Linked DNA regions of Homo sapiens. The protein of the gene in region 3 interacts with the protein of the main gene of each other region in a pairwise test. Each region holds a gene or a part of one and is shown on either strand. Other genes may lie near its edges. The genes, in order: ALMS1, PKP2 and GTF2IRD1.

Region 1 (6,998 bases), on a different chromosome or scaffold from region 3:
AAAGACATCTGAGCCAGGCACACTGGCTCACACCTGTAATCCCAGCACTTTGGGAAGCCAAGGCGGAGTATCACTTGAGCCCAGGTGTTCTACACCAGCTAGACGCCATTAAAAAAAAAGAAAAAAATCTGTGCTCATATGTTTATCACAGCACCGTTCACAATAGCAAAGTCATGAAATCAACCTAAGTGTCCATCAACAACTGAATGGGTAAAGAAAATGTAGTATGTATTAATATACATTGTGGAATATTATGCAGCTATAAACAGAATGAAATCCTGTCCTTTGCAGCAACATGGATGGAGCCTGGAGGCTATTTATCAAGTGAAACAATTCAGAAACAGAAAATCAAATACCACATGCTCTCACTGGTAAGACAAGTGGGTACAATGGGTACACAGAGGCATAAAGATAAATGGGTACAATAAGTACCCACAGACATAAAGATGGAAATAAACAGACACTGGGGGCTCCAGAAGGAGGAGAGAAGGGCTGAAAAATTACCTATCAAGTACAATGTTACACTATCACGTACAAAGGTATATTATTTGGGTGAGAGGTTCACTAGAAGCCCAAACCTCACCATTATGCAATATATCCATGTTAATTACGTGCATATGTACCCCCAAATCTAAAATTAAATTAAAATTTTGTTTAAAAAACTCCTCCTCTAGGCTTCAAGATAAAGTTTGAATATTAATAGTTATTCAAGCAAGAAGTCACAGGACAAAATAAAAGTTAGAAGACCTAGTCAACAAGTGTGGCTTTAATTATGGTCTCTATGTAAATGACTTACAACTTGAAATCTCTAGCCCAGCCTTCTCCTTCAATCTTCAAAACCAAACTCATAATCTTAAGACTCACCCAACCAATTCCACCACCCACTCACAGCCACCACCTCCACCATAAATCTGGCCATATCTTAATATTGGCACAACCATTCAAACAATAACCTAACACCTGGCTACTTCACCTTTCACATCCCATCCGTTATTAAGTATGATGATTTTGCCTCTTAAATATCTCTCAAATCAGTCCACTTTTCCCTGTATCCACCAACACTTCCCTATTCCAAACTTTCATCATCTTTTGCCGGGCAATGCTGCAATGGTCTCCTAATTTATGCCCTTGACCTATGGCTACTGCTCCCCATCCCACCTTGCTATCACAGCTGTTCCACACTCTGCTATACACCTGACCTTTCTGAAACACCTAACTTATCATACATCCCCTCGTTTCAAATATTTTCTTCAACTCCCCAAAGCTCCAGAGATAAAGCCCCTAAATCCTTGGCATAGCACACAAAGCCTTGCAGTCTGTGCTCAAACCACGTTGGCTTCTGGGTCCTGGAAAATGCCATGCTCTCTCTCATCAACAGTACCTTTTCATGTGTTTTTCCCTCAGCTAGACGGCTCTTTCCCTCCCCTTTGCCTGATTAACCTTAAACTGTCTTCAGATATCAGCTCTATCATAACCTCCTCAAGAAGGCTTTCCCAACTTCACTGACAAGGCCAGATTATCTTACTTTATGCTTTCATAGAATATTAGCACATATATTAGTTTCACTTTATGTGATCATCTGAAATCTGTCTGCCTCCCTGTCTAGACCATGAACACAAGGAAGGCAGAGACCAAAAATGTTTGGGTTCACCAAGCTTTCCTTAGCACCCAGCACAATGTGTGGCACATGGTGAATTCTAATAATACATGTTCAATGAATTAAGTACCCCCTGGAATATTCACCAGACAAAACAACAACTACTGCTCATTAGTGACAAAACTCTACACCTTCACTGTCTGTGATGATGGAACTGTTCCATTATCTGCTCTGTCCAACATGGTAGCCACTAGCCTAGTGTGGCTGCTGAGCACTTGAAAACCGGTAAGAACAGACGCATGGAATTTTTCATTTAATTTATTTTTAACTCTTACTCAAAACTATAATAGTTTTCTCTTTAAGATGTAAAAAGCCACACGTGGCCAGTGGCTACTGTACTGAGCAGGGCAGGTCTTGCTCCTCGAAAAGCAGTAAGTTAAAAAAAGGGGGGTAAGGGCAGCAAATTAAATGGAGAGTTATTTTCAAAATGATCTTCGGGGGTCTACCATGAAATCGGCTTTCTCCATTGTGTATTATCTGTGCTTTGTAGTTTTGCAGACTGTTTGGAGCCGCATCACAAGCCTCCTGCATTCCAAGCCCCTCCTATCGGCTGGGGAACCCCTTTATTGCTACAAATGATGGTCCAGGGGAGGAAAACCCGCGGGGAGCCTCTCCAGACTAAGTGATCGCGCGGTGTACATTATCCACATTACTCCCTCAGGGGAGTCCTGCAATTCAGTCAAGCTCATCTGTTCACTGTCTCCCCAACAAGATGCTCCCCAGGCAACCACTCGCTCCGGTCCTACACCGCCTTTTCCCTCCTTCAAGGCTCGACACACCCGTGGTCCTCTCTCAGCGTTTCTCACGGGGAATGCAGGCTCCCCTGAACGTCTACGGGAGTTCAAAAGGCCCAGGACCCACCGAGGGGGAGGAAACGAGAAGTCTTTGCCACAAAGCCTGGGAGACGCGGAGCAGCCGGCCGGCACCTGGGCTGGAGTCTGGGCCGCCTACTAGCCTCAGCTGCGCGCGTTTTCTCCGTCAGGCGGCGTGACCTGCGGGCGGGCGGAGCGCTCGGGGCCCAGCCTCCACCCCCAACTCGCCGCGGCTCCACACCCCTCCCCGGCCCGCCTCACCTTCTCCAGGGAGGTCCGCTCGCCCTCCGAGTAGCGGTGCTGCGGGGGCGACAGCGGAGGCAAAATCCTGCCGGGGTGCGCCTGCAGCCAGGCCTTGGCCTCCTCGTCCTCCTCGTCGTCTATACTTTCCAGATGCTGGGGCCCGTAGTGAGAGTCGGAGTCCAACTCCCGCCCCGCCTCTTCCTCCACCTCCTCCACGACCACTACGTCGTCCACGTTCGCCGCCGCCGCCGCTGCAGCCTCCTCCTCTTCCTCCTCCTCCTCCTCCTCCTCCTCCTCCTCCTCCTCCAGCTCGCCCGGCCATGGCAGATCCTCGGGCTCCATGTTGGTGTCTCGCTCTGGGCGGCAGAGGAGGAGGAGGAGGGGGGGAGGGAGGGGAAGGGGAGAGCCCTGACTGGCGGTTGTGGCCCAGCTTAGGCGCAGTGCCGCCCGCCTGGGCGGGGCCGGAAGACCGCGCGCGCGTTGCTAGGGACGCCGCGCGAGGCCCGGCGGGAACGCCTTAGGGCGGAGGTTTGCTACAGGCGACGTTGCCGCCTCGCCGCCGTCACCGGCCGGGACCTTGCGAACTGTACTGTAAGCTCACAATAAACCGGGACTGGGCGCCTTCCGGGGCGCAGAGGGCCCCGCGCAAGGACAGTGTAGTTCTCGGCTGGGGTCGAGTTTCGCCCCTGCACAGAGAAGAGATCAAACTCTAGGACGTACCCGTTATAATCACACATGCAAATTATAAAGTTTTAAAGGTTGAGTATCTCCTAAAGTGTCAAGCTGTATGGTGGGCGCTTGAACCTAACCGTGGAAAAGTGTCACGGGTTGTTAGAGGGATTAAGAACTGGGCACTGGCATCAGAAAGATCGGAGTTTGAATCCTGGCATCACCACTTAAAGTGGTGTGACTTTGTGTTTATAAAACGATGATAATAGGCCATCGCATAGGATGGGTGTGATAATTAAAGGAAATAATCAATGTGAAGGACTTAGTGATAGGTTGGTTATTGTACAATAACTCATTAGATGCTCACGGTTCTGTGAGACAAGTATTACTATTTCATGTATGAAGAATCTGAGGCTAAAAAAATTAATTTGCCCAAAGTTTCTTACCTAGTAAGTGGCTGACTCAGTATGCCATCCCAGGTCCTCTGTTAGTGTAGGAATTGCCCTGGCCTAGACCAACCAGCTGTTAAAGGATAACAGAGCAAATATTTATACTGATAGTACATATGTTTTGGTGGTTCGTCAATGACTTTGGAGTGCTTTAAAAACAAAGATTTCCTGACCGCTTCAGGAACCTCTACGAAATGAATGGCAAATTAAAGTATCTTAAGATGCCATGTAACCAGACACCACCTGTACCCCCAATAACCTATGGGGAAAATTTTTAAATTAAAATTTTAAATAATAATTATAATCTTGAGATGCTTCACTGTTACCAAAGGAAATAGCCATAATTAAAGTGGAGTCCAGCAAAAAGTCTTCATGGTATTACCCACAATAGTAGAGATACATTGATAATGATGCTGAACCAATGTTGGTGGGGCAATTTTAGGGTTATTGCCAAGGATGTATGTCCTGCCTACCTGTCAATGACCCAATCCTGGCAAAACTTTAAGGGTAGAACATGAACTGGAGCCCAGTCTTGGAGTTCTGTTGAACACCTCTAAATGGACTATGAGTACATTAGGGTTATTTATTCTTAAGGGGTTTAGGGGTTCTCCTTGCCGGAGACCTATTACTGTAATAGTAGAAAAGAATTTATTAATTTTGTATTCCTGAATGTGAAATCTCAATGTTTATCTCCAGTAAGAGGACACACATTTCACTGATATTAAATAACTGTAAAGCTTTACCTTTTTAGAAACTCCGCTATCTTTTTGCATCCACAAATTTCAGGAAAGATAAAGAGAACTAATAGAATTCTAAAAAATAGCTTTCAAAGTTCTCTAACTTCCATCTAACTTCCAAAGCCCAAAGTACTTCTATTTGCCTTGATGGCAATAAGGTCAGTCCATTCTAAGGCCCATAAGTTATCTCCTTCTGAGTTAATAACAGGCTTCCTCATGTATTTGTGAATTACTTCCAATACTAGATGCTACTAATATAAGCTGTTATCACTAATTGCTGCAGGAGACTTCTAAGATTAACTCCTGCTTTATCAACAACAGATGGAAGCTGCATTCTCAAAGCACCCACCTAAGCAGCTTCTGAAGTTAGAGATTTGGTCTTCTGAAAAAGCATTAGAAAACAATTTCCCTTGAGCCTCAATGCAAGAAAAAAAAATGTCAGGTACTATCAACAACTGACCCAGGAGTAAAACTAGAAGACATTGATCCCTGGATTCATATTACACAACTAAAAAGACATGCATCATTTTCTCCTGGCTACCGGACATCCCATACTATTGGAAGACCTCAAACTGAAGATTCCTGGGACTTCCCCAGAAGCTGCTTACTGCAGAAATGGGCAGTTTATACCCAAGACAACAGGACAAGATTAATTTCTGATTCCTTGGCATCTCTTACCCTACCACTAATCTTGCTTATTGCATTTTGACACCCTTGATTAACTAACAAATTGATTTCTCGGGGAGATAACCCTTATCTTCATCCTGTTACTTTTGACTCCCTATGTTCTACTACTTAAAGTAAACATTATTTGGCCAGGTGCAGTGGGTCATACCTGTAATTCCAGCACTTTAGAAAGCCAAGGTGGGAAGATCACTTGAGACCAGGAGTCTAACTAACGTAGGCAATGTAGCAAGACCCCCATCTCTAAAAACAATAAAAAATTAGCTGGGCATGGTGGCACGTATCTGGAGTCCCAGCTACTCAGGAGGCTGAGGCAAGAGGGTCCTTGAAGCTCAGGAGTCCAAGACTGCAGTGAGCTGTGATCGTGCCAATGGGCAACAAAGTGAAACCCAATCTAAAAAAGAAAGAGAGAAAGGGAGAAGAGAGAAAGAGAAAGGAAAGGAAAGGAGGGGAAAGGGGAAAGGGAAAGAGAAAGGAAAGGGAAGGAAAAAAAGAAAAGAAAAGAGACACTTTCTGGAGTGTTTTTCTCAAACCGTAGCTACTGCTTTTAAGGAATTGTTGACAAAATTTAATAACTGTGCTTTCATAGACTTCATCAAGTAGATTTTCTTCTGTAGGTCACTTCTGGTACTTAAGCATTCCCCACAAAGTTCATCCCAAACCTCAGTCTTCTAAAAATTGGACCTTGACCTACACTTCAACAGAATGTTTCCCTGAAGTCATTACAATCCTATGAGAAAAACCTAGCCCTTCAGGAATAGAAACTAATATTGGGGCTATTCTTTATACACTACTCAGGTCATTCTCTTCCAAAACATTCCAGCCTGCTTTGGAGAAACCTGTTTAACTTCATCCAAGAAATCTGCTTATCCTGAGGGAAAGAAAGTTGGCTTGTCCCTGATGTGCTAAATAGCCCTTATCCTCCCAATGCAGTCTGTACTCCCCTAGGGTACTACTTATTTATGGGAACATCTGGCTTGCCCACTAACTTACCCTTTATATTGAAGCTAATTGTTAGAGACCCTCCAGTGCTTAAAATTACCACCCCTCCAGTAGACTGTGTTTCTTTGAAAAGAACACCCAGAAACCAACAAAATGAAGCAAGCACACAATCACAGACTACTTGGGAGAACTCCCAGGAGGGATAACTGACTCATTTTTCATGTGTACTCTGTGAATGAAATTCCTACAACAAAGATAATACAACAGAAAGAGATCAGATCCAAGAGAGGTATTTGACCTTAGCAGACCCCATAGATAGCAAAACTTCTGCTATAGCAGCTCAGAAAACCACTTAAATTTGAATTCCTTAGCCAGAGTTTTCATGGATAATTATATAACCCTTGATTTCTTCTTAGCTGGCCAAGGAGGAGTTTGTATTTAGCAACACTTGTCACCATACTCACATACTACTGGGCCAGTAGAACATACTACAGAGTCAGTAGAACATGAGTAAACTGAAAAGAGAAAATCCTCCTGGCTCCCTAAAAACAGACTCAGCTGGATTCTGGGGCATGTTTTCATTGCCAGGACTTTATAATCTGGGTCCCTGTCTTCAAGACTTTTTACAAAGATGGATAATCATTTTGTTTCTGGTAATTGCTTCTTTTGCACTTGGTCAACGTATCCTATCCACAGCCCTAGTTTCTGCACAGCCATTGTCATATCATATGATTCAACAAATCCTACAACAGAAGGCGGAATTAACCCAACTACAGACTGCATCCTCCAGATCAGCATAAATTTA
Region 2 (7,109 bases), on a different chromosome or scaffold from region 3:
CAATCCTAGCACTTGGGGAGGCTGAGGTGGGTGGATCACTCGAGTCCAAGAGTTTGAGACCAGCCTGGGCAATATAGTGAGATCTCGTCTCTACAAAATTTTAAAAATTTAAAAATTAGCTGGGCATGGTGGCATGGGCCTGTAGTCCCAGCTACTTGGGAAGCTGAGGTGGGTGGATTGCTTGAGCCCTGGAGACAGAAGTTGCAGTTAGCTGAGGTTGGGCCACTGCACTCCAGGCTGGGTGACAGAAAGCAAGACTCTGTCTCAAAAAGGAAAAAAAAAAAGGGAACACTATGGTGAAAAATTGTTTCAAAGCAGATGAAAGTCTAATAAAGTTTTATACTATTGAAAATTTAACCAATAGTTGTACAGTGCTATATTTTGTGACCAGTTAGCTCACATAATCAACCATGAGAAACAACTTGGTGTATCAGGTATATGCTAGAAAGTACTGGCTATGAGTTCTTAAAACGTTGAATATGCCAGGGACAGAACAGCTCTCCTGCAAGAGTGGGCCACACATACCACATGCCAGTGTGCGACTGACTAATCCATTGCTGTTATCACTCACACGATATACCAGCCACTAGAGTCCTTATTTTTCAGGAGCCCCCTAAGCAATTCAAGAGCTATCTTCTGATATACCAATTTATGACATTTGGGGGGCAATCCTCAAATCACTGCTCTAGGTAATGACAAAAACACATTTTAAATGTCCCCCTCCCACTTTTTTTATTGAGATGGAGTCTTGCTCTGTCGCCCAGGCTGAAGTGCAGCGGTGCGATCTTGGCTCACTGAAACCTCTTCCTCTCAGGATCAAGCGATTCTTGTGCCTCAGCCTTCCGAGTAGCTGGACTACAGGTGTGTGCCACCATGCTGACTAATTTTTGTATTTTTAGTAGAGATGGGGTTTTGCCATGTTGGCCAGGCTGGCCTCAAACTCCTGGCCTCAAGAGTTCTACCCGCCTCGGGCTCCCAAAGTGCCAGCGCTTTAGGCGTGAGCCATTAAATGGCCCTTTTATATCACAGGTGTTCATGTCATATTTTGTTTGAGGTATTAGAATATGTAATTGTAGAATTTGTTATTATAAACTGGTAATTTAGCATCCTGGTGAAGTATTAAATAGAAATATCCTGGAAGTATCTAAATCTGTTCATTTCTCAGCCAGGCACGGTGGCTCATGCCTGTAATCCCAGCACTTTGGGAGGTCAAGGTGGGCAGATCACTTGAGTCCAGGAATTTGAGACCAGCCTGGGCAAAAAGGCAAAACCCCATCTGTACAAAAAAAATACAAAAATTAGCTGGGTGTGGTGGCGTACACCTGTAGTCCCAACTACTCAGGAGGCTGAGGTGAGAGAATGGCTTGAGCCCGGGGGGCAGAGGTTGCAGTGAGCCAAGATGCACTCCAGCCTGGGCAACAGAGACAGACGCTGTCTCATGAATGAATGAATGAATACACTGTTCATTTCTGTAACTGTGTCTTTACTTTGGCATTCCTGCCAATTATTTGCTGAGATATCTCATGAGACTTTAAGACTTGTAAGACTTTATAACTTCCATGGCAAATATCACATTATACTCCCAATAATATAAAAAAAGGTGAATTTATAGAACTCACAAATTATTTTTTGCTTTAAAATACTTACTACAGGTTTTCTTTGTAATGACTTTCAAGTCATTATATTTCCCCTGCCTCTCACGTGCCAGGGTTAACCCCTCCCAACTGATTCATAACTGCTAACCCAACTTTTCTTTTTCTTTTTTTTTTTTTGAGACAGATTTTCACTCTTGTTGCCCAGGCTGGAGTGCAATGGCACGATCTCGGCTCACCGCAACCTCCACTTCCCGGGTTCAAGTGATTCTCCTGCCTCAGCCTCCCAAGTAGCTGGGATTACAGGCATGCGCCACCACGCCCAGCTTATTTTTTCTGTACTTTTAGTAGAGACAGGGTTTCTCCATGTTGATCAGGCTAGTCTCAAACTCCCGACCTCAGATGATCCACCCGCCTCAGCCTCCCAAAGTGCTGGGATTACAGGCGTGAGCCACTGCGCCCGGCCTCTTTTTTTTTTTTTTTTGAGACAGGGTCACTCTGTTGCCCAGGCTGGCGTGCAGTGGTGCATTCAGAGCTCACTGCAGCCTTGAACTCCTGGCCTCAGGCGATTCTCCTGTCTCGGCCTCTCAAAGTGCTGGGATTACAGGAAAGAGCCACCATGCTAGGTCTGTTCCTACTTTAAATCCACCAAATCTGTCAAATGTATTTTCACAAAACTCCTGCACTTTTCATGTTTCTTCCCTGTGGAAATATCTGTGACTCACAATTATCAAATTCTTTAACTTGCATTCAAGATCAGAGGAGAGGGGTGAAGGAGGCTGCCTATAAGGGACACAACTGAACTAAGTTAACTGGGCAAGAGAAGGAAGGGAGGGAGACAAGGAGGGGTAGAAATACCAAGCAAGATAAACTGCCTGTGTGTGTTTGGTGGGGAGCAAGGGTAGTGGCCCCAGGGATGAAGTTTGAGAAGTTGCAGGCATTAGATCACGAAGAACTTGGAATGCTGTGTTCAATAATTTTACTCTTGCAGATAACAGTAAGAAACTGAAGGAATTTAAACTGGGAAATGATGCAATGAGATTTTAGAAAGTTCACTCTAGCAGCTGTGTGGAGAATGGATTGGAGTGGGGCCACGTTAAAACAAAGAGGTTATTTTCTCTTCCAAAGAGATTTTGACAGAAAGAACTGTATCTTACACTACCACTTCTAGCACAGTCTTGTATCAGTACTTGACAAGTTAATTGTTGATTAGTCAGATTACCTGTACATTAGAAATATCCTAGTTACACAAATTCAGTTTGCGCTTAATCATTCAGGCAGGTATGTATTCTGTGGCTCACCAGAATGGAACTAAAATGTGAGTATGATAGTCACATACATGCTTTTGTCTTGGGGTAGATGGAAGGTGCTCAAATAGTTTCGACTGTTCTCTGTCATTCTGGGTATACGGAGAGGAAGGAAAGTTGCTTCCCCAGAATGTAGGCAGACTTTTATTAGAAAAGCAGACTTTGGGCCAGGTGCAGTGGCTCATGCCTGTAATCCCAGCACTTTGGGAGGCCGAGGCGGGTGGATCGGTCAGGAGATCGAGACCATCCTGGCTAACATGGTGAAACTCCATCTCTACTAAAAATACAAAAATTAGCCGGGTGTGGTGGCACACACCTGTAATCCCACTTACTTGAGAGGCTGAGGCAGGAGAATCGCTTGAACCCGAGGAGACGGAGGTTGCAGTGAGCCGAGATTGTGCCACCGCACTCCAGCCTGGGCATAGAGCGAGACTCCATCTCAAAAAAAAAAAAAAAAAAAAAAAGAAAAGCTGACTTTGTTCATTTTGGCAAGGTTGTTTCTATATTTGAATAATATATGTTTACTATCATTCTTTTATCTGTATGGCTTGTGTATTTATCTGTAATATTTTGGTGGCCTATAAATTCATATTATCTGTCAAGAAAAGTTCCCATTTGTTTTCATTCTTCAATGAAAAAGAGTAATCAAGATCCAATAAGCTTGATGCTCACCCACACCCACCCCATAAATAGCTTACTGAGAGATTCAGAAAAAATAATCCATTAAGCTTCTAATGAAGGTTTTCATCCACAAATTCTGGAAATCAAGGAATTGCAGAACTTTGATTATGACTGCTTAGGTTAACGAATGTTATTAAGTCTAAAGCTGATTATTCCAAGAATATAAATATGTGAATTATTTTAATAGTAATGGCAGGTTGTGTTTTCAAATGCTTAAGTTTCTTTTTTTCCAACTGTCCATTTTTATTTAAATCTACATATTGAGCTCTCAAGCTTTTGTCTTTAAACACTTTAAGAACATTACAACTGTTTTTATGTCCAATATCCAATTACCAGAAATGGCATTATAGAAAAGATACACAGGCCGGGTGCGGTGGCTCACGCCTGAGATCCCAGCACTTTGGGAGGCAGAGGTGGGCGGATCACCTGAGGTCAGGAGTTCGAGACCATCCTGGCCAACATGGTGAAACCCTGTCTCTACTAAAAATACAAAAAATTAGCTGGGCTTGGTGGCGGGTGCCTGTAATCCCAGCTACTCGGGAGGCTGAGGCAGGAAAATCGCTTGAACTCGGGAGGCAGAGGTTGCAGTGAGCCGAGATCGTACCACCGCACTCCAGCCTGGGCAACAAGAGCGAAACAAAAAAAAAAAAAAAAGAAAAGAAAAGACACACAACAGGTTTTTAATGTTTTTATTATGAGAGCACTTGATAGTTTGTTTAGTAGTCTTACTCTACTAGTCAGGGGAGCCAGGTGGCTCACTCTAATAGAAAAATAAAGTTTTCTCCTAATTTATTGTCTATTCCCACTTGCATTGCTGCCTTTTACTGCTAATTTACTTCCTCAGGAGAAGTAGGGTATTTATCTTCATATATTTGTAGACATGCACAAGATACCTGAAGTCCAACATTTGTCTCAGAATTGTATAATTTAAACTTGTTGAATGTCATCTGAGATGGAAATAAATCATCTTATAGGCCATATTAATCATCTGATTTATAAACTCCAGAGGTTTTAGCATCATATTTATTATATTTCATTACTATCATAGTTTGCCAATAATATGCTTGTTCTCTCAGAGAAAAAAAATCAAAACTTTTAATAATTTGTATTGATCAGACTAGGAATTCAATTGTAGGGTAAAATCAATGTTAAAATGTGAAGATAAAATAATGTAACTATGTATAGGCTTATTTTAATAAATGAGAAAAAACTGTAAAGTTGCTATCTAAAACTTTGAGGAAATGTGAACTACAAATACCTAGAATATTTAATACAAAAGCTACCCTCTGTTCCCATGACTGTGGAACTCTTAGCACAGGGCATACAGATAACAACAGTCTTTTAAAAGCCTAAATGAACAGTCTTCCTTCCTTTAAGGTAATTTCCTGCGTCTTATCTGTCACATATAGAACAATGTACTTTCATAATCAAACCCTGCTACTCTGGGTCTACTTGTGGTTTCTTACAGTTCCACGGATTCTGAAGCATCCTTACTTTACCCTCACACAAAACTTCACCCCTAAGAGATGTGTTCTCAACATTTCCAGGGGTGTGAAGTTTTTTTTGTTGTTGTTGTTAACTACCATTTTGTTAACATTCTATTTCACTTACTATAATCAGAAGGATTTCTTTAATTATTTTTGGACTTACCGAACTCAATCTGCTTGGCCCTGGACAAAAAGTGGCTCACAGGCCATATTACACAGACACAGAGGTGCATTTAATCCAGTGTGCTACTGACACCTCACATTCAGAGCAGAGGGCCATGACCCTGCCACCCGCCATCTCACTCTTTTTTTTCCCTTTCCTGATCCCTCCTACTTTCTGAACGATTAGTCACCTTGCTCCCCAGAATTGCTTCATTCCTGGGATTCCTTTTTGTCAAAGGAAGAATTTATGCAGAATTTGAACAATGTCTAACTTTTTTTTAACAGTAGCGCCTAGTAACTACCTTTCTTTTGCTACCCTGAGCCAATTTTCAATTCTCTCTCCAGAATTCACTTTTTTTTTTTTTTTTGAGATGGAGTCTCACTCCATCGCCCAGGCTGGAGGCAGTGGCATGATCTTGGCTCACTGAAACCTCTGACTCCCAGGTTCAAGCAATTCTCCTGCCTCAGGCTCCCTAGTAGCTGGGATTACAGGTATGCACCACCACACCTGGCTAATTTGTTTTTTATTTTTAGTAGACACAGGGTTTCACCATGTTGGCCAGGCTGATCTCAAACTCCTGACCTCAGGTAATCCACCCGTCTCGGCCTCCTAAAATGGTGAGACTACAGGCATGAGTCACTGCGCCCAGCCCAGAATTCACTTTGATCACAGATATTGAAAAGCAGCTTCACCAAGGAAATCACCTAAGATAATAGTGTGCCTCAAGTTTTGTGGTGGATTTCCAAAGAGGTTGTAAATATAATTGCATTAGGAGATTGTTCACTGTCCTTTATAAGTAGTAAATACAATTTAAAACACAATTTTCTCTCCACTCAGATACCTGGGGTGGGGGCGGGGGGGGGGGGAGAACTGTGTAGCAAGTAGTACTTTTAAGGCAAGTGTAATAAATAGGATATGGATGCTTTTAATTTTTCCCTTTGCCAATACTTGCAATTCTTAAATGTCTTCTATTTTAGAAAAATATTTTAACTATTAGCTACAATACAGACTTACTTCACAATGCTGCTATACACCTCTGAAGGCCCCTTCCCAAAGAGTTACAGCCAACTTTAAAATGTTCAGCACAGTTAAAAATAACACCAAAAGTCACTGAGTGATTTACAATGAAAACCACCCAGCTATACTAAGGCATTGGAAAGAAGACAAAGGGTTAAAGACTCTTGCAAGATACTTATCAACAAATCAGCCACATTTATCTCATCTCTGCTTTCAGCAGGTTATCCGCTGTCTCAACCTTACAGGTTTGTCAACAACTCAGAATTCTCCAGGGCCCTGGAGCTAATAGCAGTTAACATCAGGGTCTTTTCTTCCTGGAATTTCTTGTGTTGATACAGGATTTTTTCCAGACCAGCACTGTTTCAACAATTGCTTGTCTGTTTCAACTTGAGAGACAGGATAGTAACATGGAAATAATAAAAATTATACTCAGAACCACCACGAGCCCCCAGACCTTTTCAAAGAAGTTTAATTAAACAATACATACGAACCACCCCTGGTAATTGTTTCATGGCATGCTAATGTTAAATTCCTTTGAAGCTGATTTCCTTTTTGAGTCTTAGAAAGCTGAGGCTTTAAAGTAAGTAGGTGTTGTTTGCTGCCTTATCTCTCTGTCTGATTTGTACTTCTGTGTAGGCTGCAGAGTGTATTTCAGCTTACTGGAAAGCTGCTGTTGCAATCAAAATATTTCAAACGCTTTGTTCCTTAGTTGGAACAGCCAGTCAAGTAGTTGACCCAAGCATTATAGCAGAAGGACCAAGATAGTGCCCTTTGTTCTACCATATCAACTCTGTGAACTGTGAAATATTCATTCTGTTCCCTCCTAGAATGATCTTTCTCCAGTCACCTCCCTATGTCCAGT
Region 3 (7,109 bases):
CCTCGCAGGCGTCCTCTTAGTCCAAGGCCAAGGACATCATTCACAGATGGCTGAGCAGAGACCCAAGGTCCAAGGGGGTCTCAGCCAGGACACCATCTGTCCAGTCCCACTCCCATGCCCAGACATGGCTCCTTCCAACCTAAGAGGGCCCAGGCATCCTGACCTGCCCTGGGAGGCTGTCCCCTGCATGAGTGACCTCTGTCCCACCCCCTAGACTTGGAGATCCCAGCAGCAATGTTACCACAACAGTCGGAGAAGTCTTGGGCACCGGTGGCCTTGGGCTCTGGCATGGGCCGACTCAGGCCCAGGTCGCTGGGGGCAAGGGGGCAGGAAGGTGCTTCCTGCTTGAGCTCTCGGATGGCGTGGTTGGGGAGCGCCGTGCTGTACAGGAAGCTGGCCATGGAGGAGGAGGTGGCGGTTGGGGGCAGGTCCTGGGGTGGCACCTTGGGGGCCTGGCCATGCAGGCCACAGTCCCGTGACCCCTTGGGAATCAGGGAGACACCGTTCAGCTCCACCAGGGCCTTCGAGTCCCGCCCGCCATCCTCAAGTGGCCTGAGTAAAGGAGAGGACACATGGACAGCTTTGTACATCTGTTTCACACATTGCAGCTCTTCCCCCGAAAACCCCGCATCCCTGCCCTCTGCAGAACATAACAGCCCCATGAGGAGGGCAGGACAGGAGCTGCTCTTCCACTTCACAAGTGGGGATGCAGGCTCGGAGGTGGGAATGGTGTGCCCAGGGCCACAGAGCTAGGCCACCGGAGGACCTGGGCCCTGCCCCTCTGCTCCAATCCACTGTTCAGATCCCGCCAGGTGCGGTTGATTGCCTCCTGTCTCCTGCTGCACCCCTCCCCTTCCTGCCTCTGCATTGCCTGGGGCACTTAGCAGAGATGGGTTCAACCTTAAGCCCTCAGGCTGCCTTCTTGGCTCTCCTGACAACTGGTACTGCCTCAGACCAGCCTCAACAACCTAATCTCCCCTGGATCCCTAATTAACCCCAGATTTACAACCTGAGCAAGCACAGGACATGGTTCTCCCGTTTCTGACACCTAAAATGCCATATTTTTTTTTTAAGAGATGGGGTCTTGCTCTGTTGCCCATGCTGGAGTGCAGTGACGCAATCACAGCTCACTGCATCCTCAAACTCCTGGGCTCAAGCAAGCCTCCTGCCTCAGCCTCCTGAACAGCTGAGATGACAGGTGTGCACCACCACACCTGGGTAATTTTTTTTATTTTTATTTTTTGGCAGAGACAGGGTCTTGGTATGTTGCCCAGGCTGGTCTTGAACTCCTGGCCTCAAGTGATCCTCCCACCTCAGCCTCCCAAAGTGCTGAGATTACAGGCATGAGCTACTGTACCCGACCACTTTGGTGCTATTTTGTCCCAAGTCATGTCTCTTCAAGTCTCTCTGCAATGCAACTTCCCTGGGAAGACTTCAAGGCTTAATGACCTGGCTCAGATCCTGTTCTATGACTTCGCTTTCACTTCACCTCCACCATCAGACTGGGAGCTTTCACCACCAGGGTCCCCCACGGGCATCTCAAGTCCCTTCCCCTCTGGCTAAGTGGCCTCCAGCCCCCGGCCCTGACCCGGCCCTGGCCCAGCCCCAGCCCAGCCCCGGGCCGGCTACCTCACTCACCTCTTGAGCTTGAAGCGGATGCGGTGGCTGTGTTCCAGGATGGCCATGAGGGCCTTGGGGTCATACTCGGCTGGCCTTCGGAAGGCCAGGCCTTCGGGCAGCCCCTGCACGGCCAGCAGCCCTGGCTCCCTGAGCAGCCTCTCATAGGGCAGTGGCACCACACTGGCCCTTCCCAGGGCCTCGCCTGTAGGGGAGAGTCCAGGAGAGGGGCCTGGTATGAGAGGGCAGCCAGGCTGGGGTCGGGGCTGCTGTGCCCCAGAGTGGGGGCAGTGCTGAGTGGCTCCCCTTGGTGCGGGGTTCCCATGGACCCCTCATAACTGCAGACTTTGTGCAGAATAACCGCCTGCAGGCTGGGGGTGGGTGGTGTGGACAAGGCCCAATTGTCTGCATCTGGGGGGCTGGGGCTCCCCCACCAAGCAGGTTCCCTGCTGCCCTCCCCGACCAAGCCCCTCTCCACTCTGGGCACCTGGCTGGAGGGGAAATCGGGGACTCAAGGGCCCAGAGGACAGAGCAGAGGCAGACAATCCGGTAGGAGAAAAGAGGGCAGAAGAGACGGAGAAGTGGGGACTTGCATGAGCCAGGCTGCAAGGAAAAAGCTATAAGGGCTGGGCGTGGTGGCTCACGCCTGTCATCCCAGCATTTTGGGAGGCTGAGGAGGGAGGATCACTTGAGGCCAGGAGTTCGAGACCAGCCTGGCCAACATGATGAAACCCCGTCTCTACTAAAAATACAAAAATTAGCTGGGTGTGGTGGTGCATGCCTGTAATCCCAGCTACTTGGGAGGCTGAGGCAGGAGAATCGCTTGAACCCGGGAGGTGGGTTGCAGTGAGCCGCTGCACTCCAGCCTGGGTAACAGAACGAGAATCCATCTCAAAAAAAAAAAAAAAAAAAAAAAGGTGTAGGGAGGAAGGGAGAGAGACCGAGAGGGGGGAGAGAAAGTAAGAAGAAGAGGAAGTGGAGAGGGAGCAAAAATAGGGGATTGAGAAAAAGATGGGAGAGGCTGGGCGTGGTGGCTCACGCCTGTAATCCCAGCACTTTGGGATTACCGAGGCAGGTGGATCACTTGAGGTCAGGAGTTTGAGACCAGCCTGGCCAACATGGTGAAACCCCGTCTCTACTAAAAATATAAAAATTATCCAGGTGTGGTGGCAGGTGCCTGTAATCCCAGCTACTCAGGAGGCTGAGGCAGGAGAATTGCTTGAACCCAGGAGGGGGAGGTTGTAATGAGCCGAGATCATGCCATTGCACTCCAGCCTGGGCAACAGAGTGAAACTTCATCTCAAAACAACAACAACAACAACAACAACAACAACAACAACAAAGACAGGAGAGAGGAGAAAGAGACAGACTGAGAAGACGCAGGAACAAAGATGGGGGCTCGGGGGCACAGAGGAGGGGAGGCAGGCTGGGGACTGAGGACTGGGCACTGGGATATCTGTTGTCACCTCCATGCTACAGCCCCCACCCTGAGCCAGAAAGAGGCCCATCCTCTCATAGCCTCCTTGAATTCTGCCCAAAGTGGACAAGGGGGGCCAGGGCAAGGCGGGCAGGGGCGCGGGGCCCTGCAGCTGGCAAAAGTGTCGACAGAGGCACAGCCAACCATGCGTGGCAAGTCCCCCATCCCAGGGTGGCCAGTGTGACCACCCAGGGCCTCTGGGTACCCCTCCTTCTGACATAAGAACAGCAGAAGTTTCCTCACAGACCTTTGCTCCATAAAACCAAAGGCTACAGTAGGAGAAGGGATAAAGCCAAATCAGAAATGAATGAGGTGGGACCCTGAGCACCAAAGGGACCTGCCCGATGTTTCCCAGGGCGTGTGAAGACCACCACTGGGGCCCTGAGGCCCTCTGCAACCTGACGCTTCCCAAGGGAGGCCAGGTCTCCTCTTCCTGCAGGAAAGACATGGCTGAGCAATCAGCCTTCACTTAGTCATTCAACAAACATTCTCCAAGCACCTGCTGTTGCTGGGCTCTGAACTGTAGGCTGGAGACAGCTAGAAAGGGCAGACACAGCCCCTGACTCTGGAGAGCTCTTGGGCTGGAGAGGGGACAGGGCACTGTGGGTGCCAAGAGAGGGGCCTAAACCCACTGTGAGGGGGCTTCCAGGAGCAGAGCCTCAGTGCCACGCAGGTGTCTGCCAGACACAGGAGGGGAAAGGCAGTCTCAAAAGATGTAACAGCGCGAAGTCCAGGGCATGTGAAATGCACCAGCGAGTGCTGGAGAACTGGAAGTGGTTCTGTAGAGAGGTCAGTAGGGCCCTGTCACCTAGTGGGAGAAGAAGGTGTGGAGGGGATGAGGATGGGTGTGTGGGCCCCTGTGCCATGCTCAGGGTGATGGGGAGCCCCCGAAGGCTGTGGAGAGAAGAGCTTCATTAATGATCAGACTTGTGCTTTGAGAAGATACCCTTGGTTGCAGGGCAGGTGTAGAGAGCTGGTCTGGAAGCAGGGAGACCGTGGCAAGCCTGGGGCTATTTCTAGGCGAGAGGTGGCAGTGACTTGAGCCAGGGCAGGGACAGTAGGGGTGGAGGTTTGGAAAACGGCTGGAGCAGAACTTCTGTGTCTGGGAATGCAGAGATGAGGAAGGGCTGGGGTAGCCAGTAGCCCCATGCCTTGGGGTCCGGCTTTGCCCAGGGCCCATAGTGGGACAGGAGGGGGCCCCCTCTGCTGGGTGGGGACCGAGGCTCCCACCCTCCCTGGGGCCCCCAAATGGAATGAGGAAGGATCTTACTATAAAGAACATCAAACACCTCCTCTACCATCTTCCGCAGAAGGTACACATCTGAGCCATGTTCCAGGGAGGACCGAGGGAGGCTACGGCCTCCACCCTCGCCCCGCTGCACCTTCTTGGGGTGCTCTGCCTCCGGATCCTTCCACGGGGGCCCTCCTGTGGGACACAGAGCACGCGAGGCCACAGTGAGCACCCGTCTCACCACCCGGCCTTCGAGCTGGGATGTCGCTGCCCTGTGCTGAGCTGCGGAGACTGGCACACAATGTGATACACAAGTGAATGAATGAATGAAGAATTAATGAGTGAGCAAGCCCTATTCCAACCACCCCACTGAGGGCCAGGGCTGGTCATCTCAGAGTTCCCAGGGCTGGGCCTCACCTCTGGTCACCTCTAATTTGCTGTGTGACCTTGGGTTAGTCCCTTCTCTCTCTGAGCCTCAGTCTGTGAATGTTCACGGGAGGCCAGCTATTCCAGCTCAGAACTGAGGTTCGATGAATGTTCCATCTGTGTCTTTCTATTTTTTTTTTTTTTTTTTTTTTTGAGACAGAGTCTCGCTCTGTTGCCCAGGCTGGAGTGCAGTGGCACAAGCTTGGCTCACTACAACCTCCACCTCCAGGGTTCAAGTGATTCTCCTGCCTCAGCCTCCCGAGTAGCTGGGATTATAGGCGCCTGCCACCTTACCCAGCTAATTTTTGTATTTTTAGTAGAGATGGGGTCTCACCATGTTGGCCAGGCTGGTCTCGAACTCCTGACCAAAGTGCTGGGATTACAGGTGTGAGCTACCATGCCCGGCCCCATCCATGCCTTTCTGTGCTCTGACACGAACACTGTCTTGACCAATCTATGCCACCGTTTTCTGCTCTGCCGGAGGGAGAGAAAACCCTCCGGCAGAGGGTTGGGAGGCACCCCCCAACCCCTGCTCCAAGGAGGCCGTGGGTTGCAAACAGCAGGTTCATGCCAGGCTGGGCCAGGGTGGGGACCGGAGAGTGTTGGTGGATCCTTGGGGAATGTTCTAGAAGCTGCATTGGAAAGGAGATGAGAGGAGGGGCCTGCGGCCCCCTCCCAGCTTGGAGCCTATTCTCCTCTGGGATCTGCGGAGCTTGAAATAAACCAGCCGAGTTCCTGGTGCTATAAATAGCGGCTCTGCGTGGCTCTAGAAGGCAGGTGCACCGCCTCAGGCTCTGGGCGGCTGGGGTGCCACACGACCTGCTGCTGTCCATTCTACCCGGCCCAGTCCCCCATCCTGGCCCTGGAGAAGGTCTAGGCTCTGAGGGCTGAGGGGGGTGGGGGGCTGGCTGGGGATGCGGCTGCACCCCAGTAATGCTAGGCCCAGCGCTGGGGGATGCCCTTCCCTGAAACAGCTGATCTTAGGGGTGTGAGGTGAATACTAATAATAGTAACAACAGCTGGTGTCTATTGAGTGTGAACCAAGTGCCAGACACTGCCCTAAGTGCTTGCAAGGTACCAATTCGTTTAACCCTCAGACCCACCCGTCCTCCCCTTTCACAGATGAGTGGGTTGAGGCACAGCAGTTGTGGACCCAGGCGGCCCGTTCTCTTAACCTCATGCTATACCATGGTTCTTTTGAGATGGGGACTCACTGTCACCCAGGCTGGAGTGCAGGGGTGCCATCGTAGCTCACTGTAGTCTTGAACTCCCAGGCTCAAGTGATCCTCCTGCCTCAGCCTCTCAAGCAGCTGGGACTACAGGTGTACACCATCAAGCCTGGTTAATTTTTAAATTTTTTGTAGAGACAGAGGCCTTGCTATGTTGCCCAGCCTGGTCTCCAACTCCTGGGCTCAAGTGATCCTCCCATTTCAGCCTCCCGAAGTGCTAGGACTACAGACATGAGCCACTGCACCTGGCCTAAGATGTTAACCCTGACTATAGCCATGACAGTGCCTGCCCCCTCAGGTTGATGTCAGGGTAGGTGAGTTAGCATCAGAAAAGATGCTATGTACAGCAGGCATTCAATAAATCTTATTGGAACATGGCCAGGCATGGCGGCTCACATCTGTAATCCCAGCACTTTGGGAGGCTGAGGTGGGCGGGTCACCTGAGGTCAGGAGTTCGAGACCAGCCTGGCCAACAAGGTGAAACCCCGTCTCTACTAAAAATACAAAATTAGTTGGGCGTGGTGGTAGGTGCCTGTAATCCCAGCTGCTCGGGAAGCTGAGGCAGGAGAATCACTTGAACCTGGGAGGCAGAGGTTGCAGTGAGCCAAAATTGTGCCACTGCACTCCAGCCTGGGTGACAGGGCAAGACTCTGTCTCATTTAAAGAAAAAAAAAATTGTGTTGGCATAAGTGCATTTGGTCCTTGTGTTCAGGAATACATAGTTAAGAGGAAGAACTGAGCAGCAGCCTTGGCCTTGGTGTCCCCATCTGGAAAAGGCAGATGGAAGTGGCTGGCTCTGGCCTACCCTGGGGTTCACCCAGCCAGTCTCTATCAACTCAGGGGCTGCCTCAATAACACCACATCGGGAATCTCAGACAACCTAGCTTGTTAGGTTCACTCCCCACACACCGCCACCCTGGCTAGACAGGGTTGGGGACCCAGAGATGGGCTAGAGCGCCTGCCCTCGGGAAATGGCGGGCCCGGCCCTCCGGAGCCCTGGGGTACTCACGGCAGAACCTGAGGAAGTCTGACTGTAGCTCCTTCCGGGCATTCAGGAACATTCTCCCCTTCTCTGTGCCCACCACAAAGGCGCTCTCATCGTGCACGGCGACACAGGCCACCTCGGCGT

What was found.
Region 1: the proteins of GTF2IRD1 (region 3) and ALMS1 interact in a two-hybrid assay, tested with the Homo sapiens proteins (one study listed by BioGRID and IntAct).
Region 2: the proteins of GTF2IRD1 (region 3) and PKP2 interact in a two-hybrid assay, tested with the Homo sapiens proteins (one study listed by BioGRID and IntAct).

The regions. Positions count from the first base shown.
Region 1 is NC_000002.12:73,381,925-73,388,922, reverse strand, and holds the start of ALMS1 (centrosome-associated protein ALMS1), read right to left. Parts: upstream 3,088-6,998; 5' UTR 3,055-3,087; coding exon 2,731-3,054; intron 1-2,730. UniProt on the Homo sapiens protein: Involved in PCM1-dependent intracellular transport. Required, directly or indirectly, for the localization of NCAPD2 to the proximal ends of centrioles.
Region 2 is NC_000012.12:32,886,735-32,893,843, forward strand, and holds part of PKP2 (plakophilin-2), read right to left. Parts: intron 1-7,109. UniProt on the Homo sapiens protein: A component of desmosome cell-cell junctions which are required for positive regulation of cellular adhesion.
Region 3 is NC_000007.14:74,512,852-74,519,960, reverse strand, and holds part of GTF2IRD1 (general transcription factor II-I repeat domain-containing protein 1), read right to left. Parts: coding exon 6,990-7,109; intron 4,617-6,989; coding exon of another isoform or gene 4,521-4,616; coding exon 4,365-4,520; intron 1,823-4,364; coding exon 1,639-1,822; intron 553-1,638; coding exon 242-552; intron 1-241. UniProt on the Homo sapiens protein: May be a transcription regulator involved in cell-cycle progression and skeletal muscle differentiation. May repress GTF2I transcriptional functions, by preventing its nuclear residency, or by inhibiting its transcriptional activation.